2 separate regions of the Homo sapiens genome follow, and region 1 is reported to be linked to region 2. The links are microRNA targets in miRTarBase. Many come from high-throughput screens and were not tested one by one. Region 2 holds a microRNA gene; the other region holds the end of a gene's coding sequence.

Region 1 (3,246 bases), not on the chromosome of region 2:
TAATCTGAAGTAATCAAAACAATCCCCCTCCCCGCTTTTTGGGGGAGTGAAGGAGAAAGGGAGAAGGCAGCAGGTAGCCGTTCCTGTGGAAAGGATACAGAACTCGTCAGTGGGACGAGTAATTCTTTCCCTGTGAAAGCAATGAAGACAAACACCTGGGGAAGGTTAGCGGCTCCAACGTAAGACGTTAAAGAGAGTTCCAACAGGGCACAGCACCCACAGACAGTGTGAAAAGAACGGAAACAGGGGCAATAGGAGCAGAGGAATGTCCTGTACTTTTCAATTCTAGGCAGGCAACATGCAAAGGGTTCATGAAGCGGTATACGATATGTAATGGATTTTCTCGTTTCAGGTAAGAAAAACTGGGTTAGGAGGTGGGACGAGAGAAGCAGGTTCGCCACTTTAGGTTACCCTCACCCGCCTACCCCATACCCTCGTTGCTCTTGTTCAGCACGTTCAGACAGTCCTTGGCTTCCACATACTTGGTCTGTACCACTTTGAGCTGAGCAATGGACGTGGACAAGAACTCCACTTCCTACAGAGGACCGGGATAGCGGGTCAATGAGAGGACTAAGGGGAGAAAGGAGCGCGGCCGGGGAGGGGGCAGGTCCTGGGATCGGATAGAGGTTTCGCCTGGGAAAGGTAGGCTGCCAACTTGGAACCGGGCGCGAGAAGTACGCGTGGGCAAGGGGGATGTAGAGCAGGAAAGAGGTGCCTCTGGGGCCCGTCCCCACCTGGTCCAGCTGGTTCTTGAGCATTTCTAGCTGCGGCAGATTCAGCTCCGTGATGTTAATAGACTGCGCCATGTTGGGAAGGCCGACTTAACGAAGAGGAAGTCTCTCGGCGAGCAACGCTCTAGCCGTCCTCTGCGCGTCTCGGTGGCGCCGGGAGGCCTCGCTGCGCCAGACAGCTCTATGATCCTCCGTCCCGGAAGGGAAGGAGGGGCTTGAGCCTCTCAGAGACTGTTGTGTGAGTTCATTTCATAAAATGTCTTAAGCCTAGTATTGTAAAGTAGCAGCAAACAGGACTCCTGCCTACAAGGAACTGCAAAATCTTAAAGTTCTCACGACACAACCACGATATTACAAAGTAGTGTATGCTACTCCACGTGGGTGGTATAAGCTACTGGAAAGCAGGCTGGATTGCCATGGCGACGGCTCGGGGGCCTGGCCCTGCTCCTCTCCACCCCGCTTGCTATTGCTGCCTGCTGGTACCCCGCCAGGCCCGATTTCAAATGTTCCTCCCAGCACGGCATGGAAATGGCAGGGAAATTCTAAACTCTTTTTCCCAGATGGCCTCTGAGGCCGAAAGGCAGGAAAAAAAAAAAAATCCCTTGTCAGACCGTTCTGAATTGTCCTTGGAAAAAAACAGGCATTAGATTGAAAGCTTGTCGAAGGCAGGAACCAACCATGTTCTCATCACTGAACCAATTCTTCCCCTCTCGCTATAACCATCTTCCCCCAGCCGGAAGTAGGCTGACACGTAGTAGGATCTGAAAAAGGGTTTATCACCCGTTGCCAGTGAGGTGGTGGGAGAACAGCAAGGAAGCGCCATTGTCAACCAAGTACAGCACAAATTAATCAATAAAATATTTTGGCCGGGCATGGTGGCTCACGCCTGCAATCCCAGCACTTTGGGAGGCCGAGAAGGACAGATTGCTTGAGCCCAGGAGTTTGAGACCAGCTTGGGCAACACGGCGACACCCCGTCTCCACAAAAAATACAAAAATTAGCCGGGCTGGTGGCACACGCCTGTAGTCCCAGCTACATGGGAGGCTGAGGTGGGAGGATCGCTTGAGCTGGAGAGTTGAGGCTGCAGTAGGCTGTGATTGTGCACACTAGCAACAGAGCTAGACTCTGTCTCAAAAAAAAAAAGGTTTTACCATGTGCTGTATGTGAGGGATACGTGAGAGTGTAAGATACTTGCTTCCCTTGAGCTTAACAATTGGAGAGAAAAACCACACTAGAACTCCACAGATCCACAGACTCTACTGCTAAAGTTACACATTGGTAAGTGTAACAGGTGTACATGGGCAGACAGCAGTAGCCTTTAACATCTACTTAGGAGGCAGGCAGGGCAACTGAGGCATTAAAACTAGTGCCATGGCTGGGCGCGGTGGCTCACGCCTGTAATCCCAGCACTTTGGGAGGCTGAGGAGGGTGGATCACAAGGTCAGGAGTTCGAGACCAGCCTGGCCAATATGGTGAAACCCTGTCTCTACTAAAAATGCAAAAATTAGTGGGACGTGGCGGCATGTGCCTGTAGTTCCAGCTACTCAGGAGGCTGAGGCAGGAGAATCGCTTGAACCCAGCAGGCAGAGGTTGCAGTGAGCCGAGATTGCGCCACTGCACTCCAGCATGGGCAACAGAGCAAGACTCTGTCTCAAAAAAAAACAAAAACAAAAAACAAAACACTAGTGCCACTCCAAAGATACCTGCGGCAGGAAGACAGGACGGACGGATGGTACCTGGCCAAAACACTCTCAAAGGGTCTATCACTACCCTTCCTTGGGCCTGTCTCTACTTAGCATTTTGATGCCCCTTTCTCCTCCAGATTTGTCTGCTGAGGCCCAGCCAGGCCCAGCAGGCTTTGTCCTGTGTCTTTGCCTTTCTTCCCCAAGCACTCAAACTTGATCTGCTGTAACCTGTTCCTGTCAGCTTACAGTACCACATAGTAGGAAGGGGGCAGTCATGCCGTGTCTTTAAATGTTCTCAGATAAACTACGCAAAACAGGGTTTAAATGATGTATCTTTATTATACTGAGGTTAAATCAAAAGGAAATGTTTCATATAAAACACTGGGGAAAATCACTTTAAAAGAGTTATCCTAAGGATTAAATCTAACCTTGGAGGTAGAACAGTTATGAGGCTTCTAGCATCAATAAGACAGCTCCATGGGGTTACCGCAGAGAGACAGGCAAGCCATAGGCTATAGGTGCAGCCCCAATAAGATACTTGAGTCGGGGAGCTTGGCGGGCCTGGTTTACATAGTAGAGAAGGGGGGCCCCTGGGCCTGCTCCAAGCCAGCCTTGCAGCAGAGCTTCCGTGTAGCGGTCAATGTCGCGGTCAGTCACATCCCAGAGATTACCCAGAAACAAGGGGCTGGGAAAAGAAAAGGAGGAAATACAAAGTAAGGGCTCTAAAACAGAATACATAGGAAAACACCATTGGTGGTGGGGGTGGGTGAGTGGAGAGGATTGAACCAATGAGAAACTCCTTTGGCCCTTGGTTACAAGAGAAGAACAGA
Region 2 (3,608 bases):
TATCGTGGTTCCTGGGAGGTGTGATCCCGTGCTCCCTGGGAGGTCTGATCCCGTGCTTCCTGGGAGGTATGATATCATGGTTCCTGGGAGGTATGATATCGTGGTTCCTGGGAGGTGTGATCCCGTGCTTCCTGGGAGGTGTGATCCTGTGCTTCCTGGGAGGTGTGATCCCATGCTTCCTGGGAGGTGTGATCCTGTGCTTCCTGGGAGGTGTGATACCATGCTTCCTGGGAGGTGTGATCCCACGCTCACTGGGAGGTGTGATCTCACACTCGCTGGGAGGTGTGCTATCGTCTTCCCTGGGAGGTGTGATCCTGTTCTTCCTGAGCGGTGTGATCCTGTGCTCCCTGGGGGGTCTGATCCTGTGCTTCCTGGGAGGTGTGATATCATGGTTCCTGGGAGGTGTGATCCCGTGCTTCCTGGGAGGTGTGATATTGTGGTTCCTGGGAGGTGTGATCCCGTGCTCCCTGGGAGGTGTGATCCCGTGCTCCCTGGGAGGTGTGATCCCGTGCTCCCTGGGAGGTGTGATCCCGTGCTCCCTGGGAGGTGTGATCCCGTGCTCCCTGTGAGGTCTGATCCTGTGCTTCCTGGGAGGTGTGATATCGTGGTTCCTGGGAGGTGTGATATCGTGGTTCCTGGGAGGTGTGATCCCGTGCTTCCTGGGAGGTGTGATCCTGTGCTTCCTGGAAGGTGTGATATCGTGGTTCCTGGGAGGTGTGATATCGTGGTTCCTGGGAGGTGTGATATCGTGGTTCCTGGGAGGTGTGATATCGTGGTTCCTGGGAGGTGTGATCTGGTGCTCCCTGGGAGGTGTGATCCCATGCTTCCTGGGAGGTGTGATCCCGTGCTTCCTGGGAGGTGTGATCCTGTGCTTCCTGGGAGGTGTGATACCATGCTTCCTGGGAGGTGTGATCCCACGCTCACTGGGAGGTGTGATCTCACACTCGCTGGGAGGTGTGCTATCGTCTTCCCCGGGAGGTGTGATCCTGTTCTTCCTGAGAGGTGTGATCCTGTGCTCCCTGGGGGGTCTGATCCTGTGCTCCCTGGGAGGTGTGATATCATGGTTCCTGGGAGGTGTGATCCTGTGCTTCCTGGGAGGTGTGATATCGTGGTTCCTGGGAGGTGTGATCCCGTGCTTCCTGGGAGGTGTGATACTGTGCTTCCTGGGAGGTGTGATCCCGTGCTCCCCAGGAGGTCTGATCCCGTGCTTCCTGGGAGGTGTGATATCGTGGTTCCTGGGAGGTGTGATATCGTGGTTCCTGGGAGGTGTGATATCGTGGTTCCTGGGAGGTGTGATATTGTGGTTCCTGGGAGGTGTGATCCCGTGCTTCCTGGGAGGTGTGATCCTGTGCTTCCTGGGAGGTGTGATCCTGTGCTTCCTGGGAGGTGTGATCCTGTGCTTCCTGGGAGGTGTGATATCGTGGTTCCTGGGAGGTGTGATCTGGTGCTCCCTGGGAGGTGTGATCCGGTGCTCCCTGGGAGGTGTGATCCTGTGCTTCCTGGGAGGTGTGATCCTGTGCTTCCTGGGAGGTGTGATATCGTGGTTCCTGGGAGGTGTGATCCGGTGCTCCCTGGGAGGTGTGATCCAGTGCTCCCTGGGAGGTGTGATCCCGTGCTCCCTGGGAGGTGTGATCCCATGCTCCCTGGGAGGTGTGATCCCGTGCTCCCTGGGAGGTGTGATCCCGTGCTCCCTGGGAGGTGTGATCCCGTGCTTCCTGGGAGGTGTGATCCCGTGCTTCCTGGGAGGTGTGATCCCGTGCTTCCTGGGAGGTGTGATCCCGTGCTTCCTGGGAGGTGTGATCCTGTGCTTCCTGGGAGGTGTGATCACATGCCTGCTGGTGATAGAGAGGCACAGCTCCCCATTGGGGAACAACCAGGACCCAGCCCTGGGAGGTGTGGATTCAGGAGGGCCCCAGAGGCCTGCATGAGCTAGTGAGAGCTAGGAGGTGGTGTCCGCACTGGGAGCGGGACCCACACAGAGGGCACGTGGGGTAAGCATCAATGAAGTTCCGGGTGTCAGCCAATTGCACCCTCCCAATGGCCCTGGAGCAGTTGCAAAAGCTTCCTGCTCTCCCATCGTCCCCTTCTCCAACCCACTCCCGAATGCAGACGCCCCTGGCCCTCCTGGGTGGCCAGAGCCTGAGGACACTCACTAGGACAGCCCTGGGCAGCTCAAAGGAGCACTTTGGCCTGGCACAGGCCAGCTCCAGGGATGCCCCCACCTTCCTCCACATGCATGGATCGGGTTTCGTCACCAAGACATCTGCAGGACAGGAGCGGGGCCTCTGGCCACATGGCCAGAGTGCCTCCTCCATTCATGGGTCCCATGTGCAAATGGGCAGACAGGAGCTCTGAGCAGCAGATTCCCCGAGGCCACATGGGGCACTGGTGGCATCTGAGCCTGGGTCGCTGAGGCAGCTGTCCTCAGCCTGGTCTCACCAGGCCACAGCTGTCAGTGGGTAAACGTGTGTGCGCGTGTGTGTGTGCTCCTGCGGCACTGTGGGGGTCATGCCTGTGGCTGAGCATCTCCTGGAATTCTCTCGTCTCACTTTCGACCTCCTCTTCTCAGCAAATCCCATCAACCCCATCTTTGAAACACCTGGAGCCGGAGTGTGACCCACTCTCATGGGTCTGCACCGCCCCCAGCCTGCGTCTGGGTTACTGCCCCGTGTGGCTTCCCTCCCCATCTCTGCTCAGGCCACACCAGCCCCCTCCCACTTCCCCTTCCTCTCCCCACTCCCTCTGGCCTCTGCCCTGCTGTTCCCTCTCCTGCAAAGCCCTTCCTGCCCGCTGGGCTCCAGGCAGAGAGAACCTTCCCAGTGGCCCTGGTCACCCAGGAGAGCACTTCAATCCCCACCCCACACACACTACACACCCCATACACACAGGCACACACACCACACCCACACACACACTATACAGACACAGCACAAACCACACACACAGGCATGCACACTATACACATGCAGCACACACCACACACACAGGCACATTCCCCACAGGCACGCACACATATACCATACACACGCCAGCACACACACCACACAGGCACATGCACAAACACCACCTCCACACACAGGCATACACCACACACACACACACCACACACACCACACACACAGGCACACACACCACATACACAGGCACAGCTCCCCACAGGCACACACACACACCACACAGGCACACCACACACACAGGTACACACACAACACACATACACTTCACATAAACACAAATAGCACATGCAAAATACACCACATAGCACATGCACACACGTGCCATACACACATGCACATCACCCCCCCCACACACACACAACCACACACATGCACATTGTCTCCTCCCCTTTACATTTCCTCAGGTCTCATTCCTCTGGGCACACCTTACCCCTGCCTTGTGGGTCTTGGTCAGCCCGTGTCCCCTGGAGTGGCATCTCCTTGAGGGTGGGTTCTCCCCTGCTGCTCCCGCCTGGCACACAGCAGGTGGTCAATGAACTGCCACTGAAGGAATGGGGGAATGAATGGATGAATGAAAGAGTGGATGGATGGATGGATGGATGGATGGATGGATGGATGGATAAATGATGAATAGATGGATGGATGGATAGA

The links. The annotated mature microRNA hsa-miR-3689d reads GGGAGGUGUGAUCUCACACUCG and lies in region 2 at 926-947, shown strand. An mRNA with a match to its seed (bases 2 to 7 or 8) in the 3' UTR can be bound and repressed. Matches are read on the target gene's strand: a 7mer-m8 pairs with bases 2 to 8, a 7mer-A1 pairs with bases 2 to 7 and ends in A, and an 8mer does both.
Region 1: miRTarBase lists ESPL1 as a target of hsa-miR-3689d. Seed matches in the 3' UTR shown: 7mer-A1 at 2,847-2,853.

Annotation. Positions count from the first base shown.
Region 1 is chr12:53,293,128-53,296,373 of GRCh38, reverse strand. ESPL1 (extra spindle pole bodies like 1, separase) reads right to left here. Exons shown (of 31, transcript NM_012291.5): 31 at 2,736-3,101. The coding sequence ends at 2,900. PFDN5 (prefoldin subunit 5) reads right to left here and starts at 832. Exons shown (of 6, transcript NM_002624.4): 1 at 735-832; 2 at 433-535; 3 at 99-130. The coding sequence starts at 806. RefSeq lists enhancers at 1-1,124, 610-1,149.
Region 2 is chr9:134,846,999-134,850,606 of GRCh38, reverse strand. MIR3689D1 (microRNA 3689d-1) reads left to right here and starts at 925; the gene lies at 925-998. MIR3689C (microRNA 3689c) reads left to right here and starts at 1,238; the gene lies at 1,238-1,309. It overlaps MIR3689A (microRNA 3689a), which reads left to right and starts at 1,043; the gene lies at 1,043-1,120. MIR3689B (microRNA 3689b) reads left to right here and starts at 335; the gene lies at 335-482. It also overlaps MIR3689D2, MIR3689E and LOC101448202.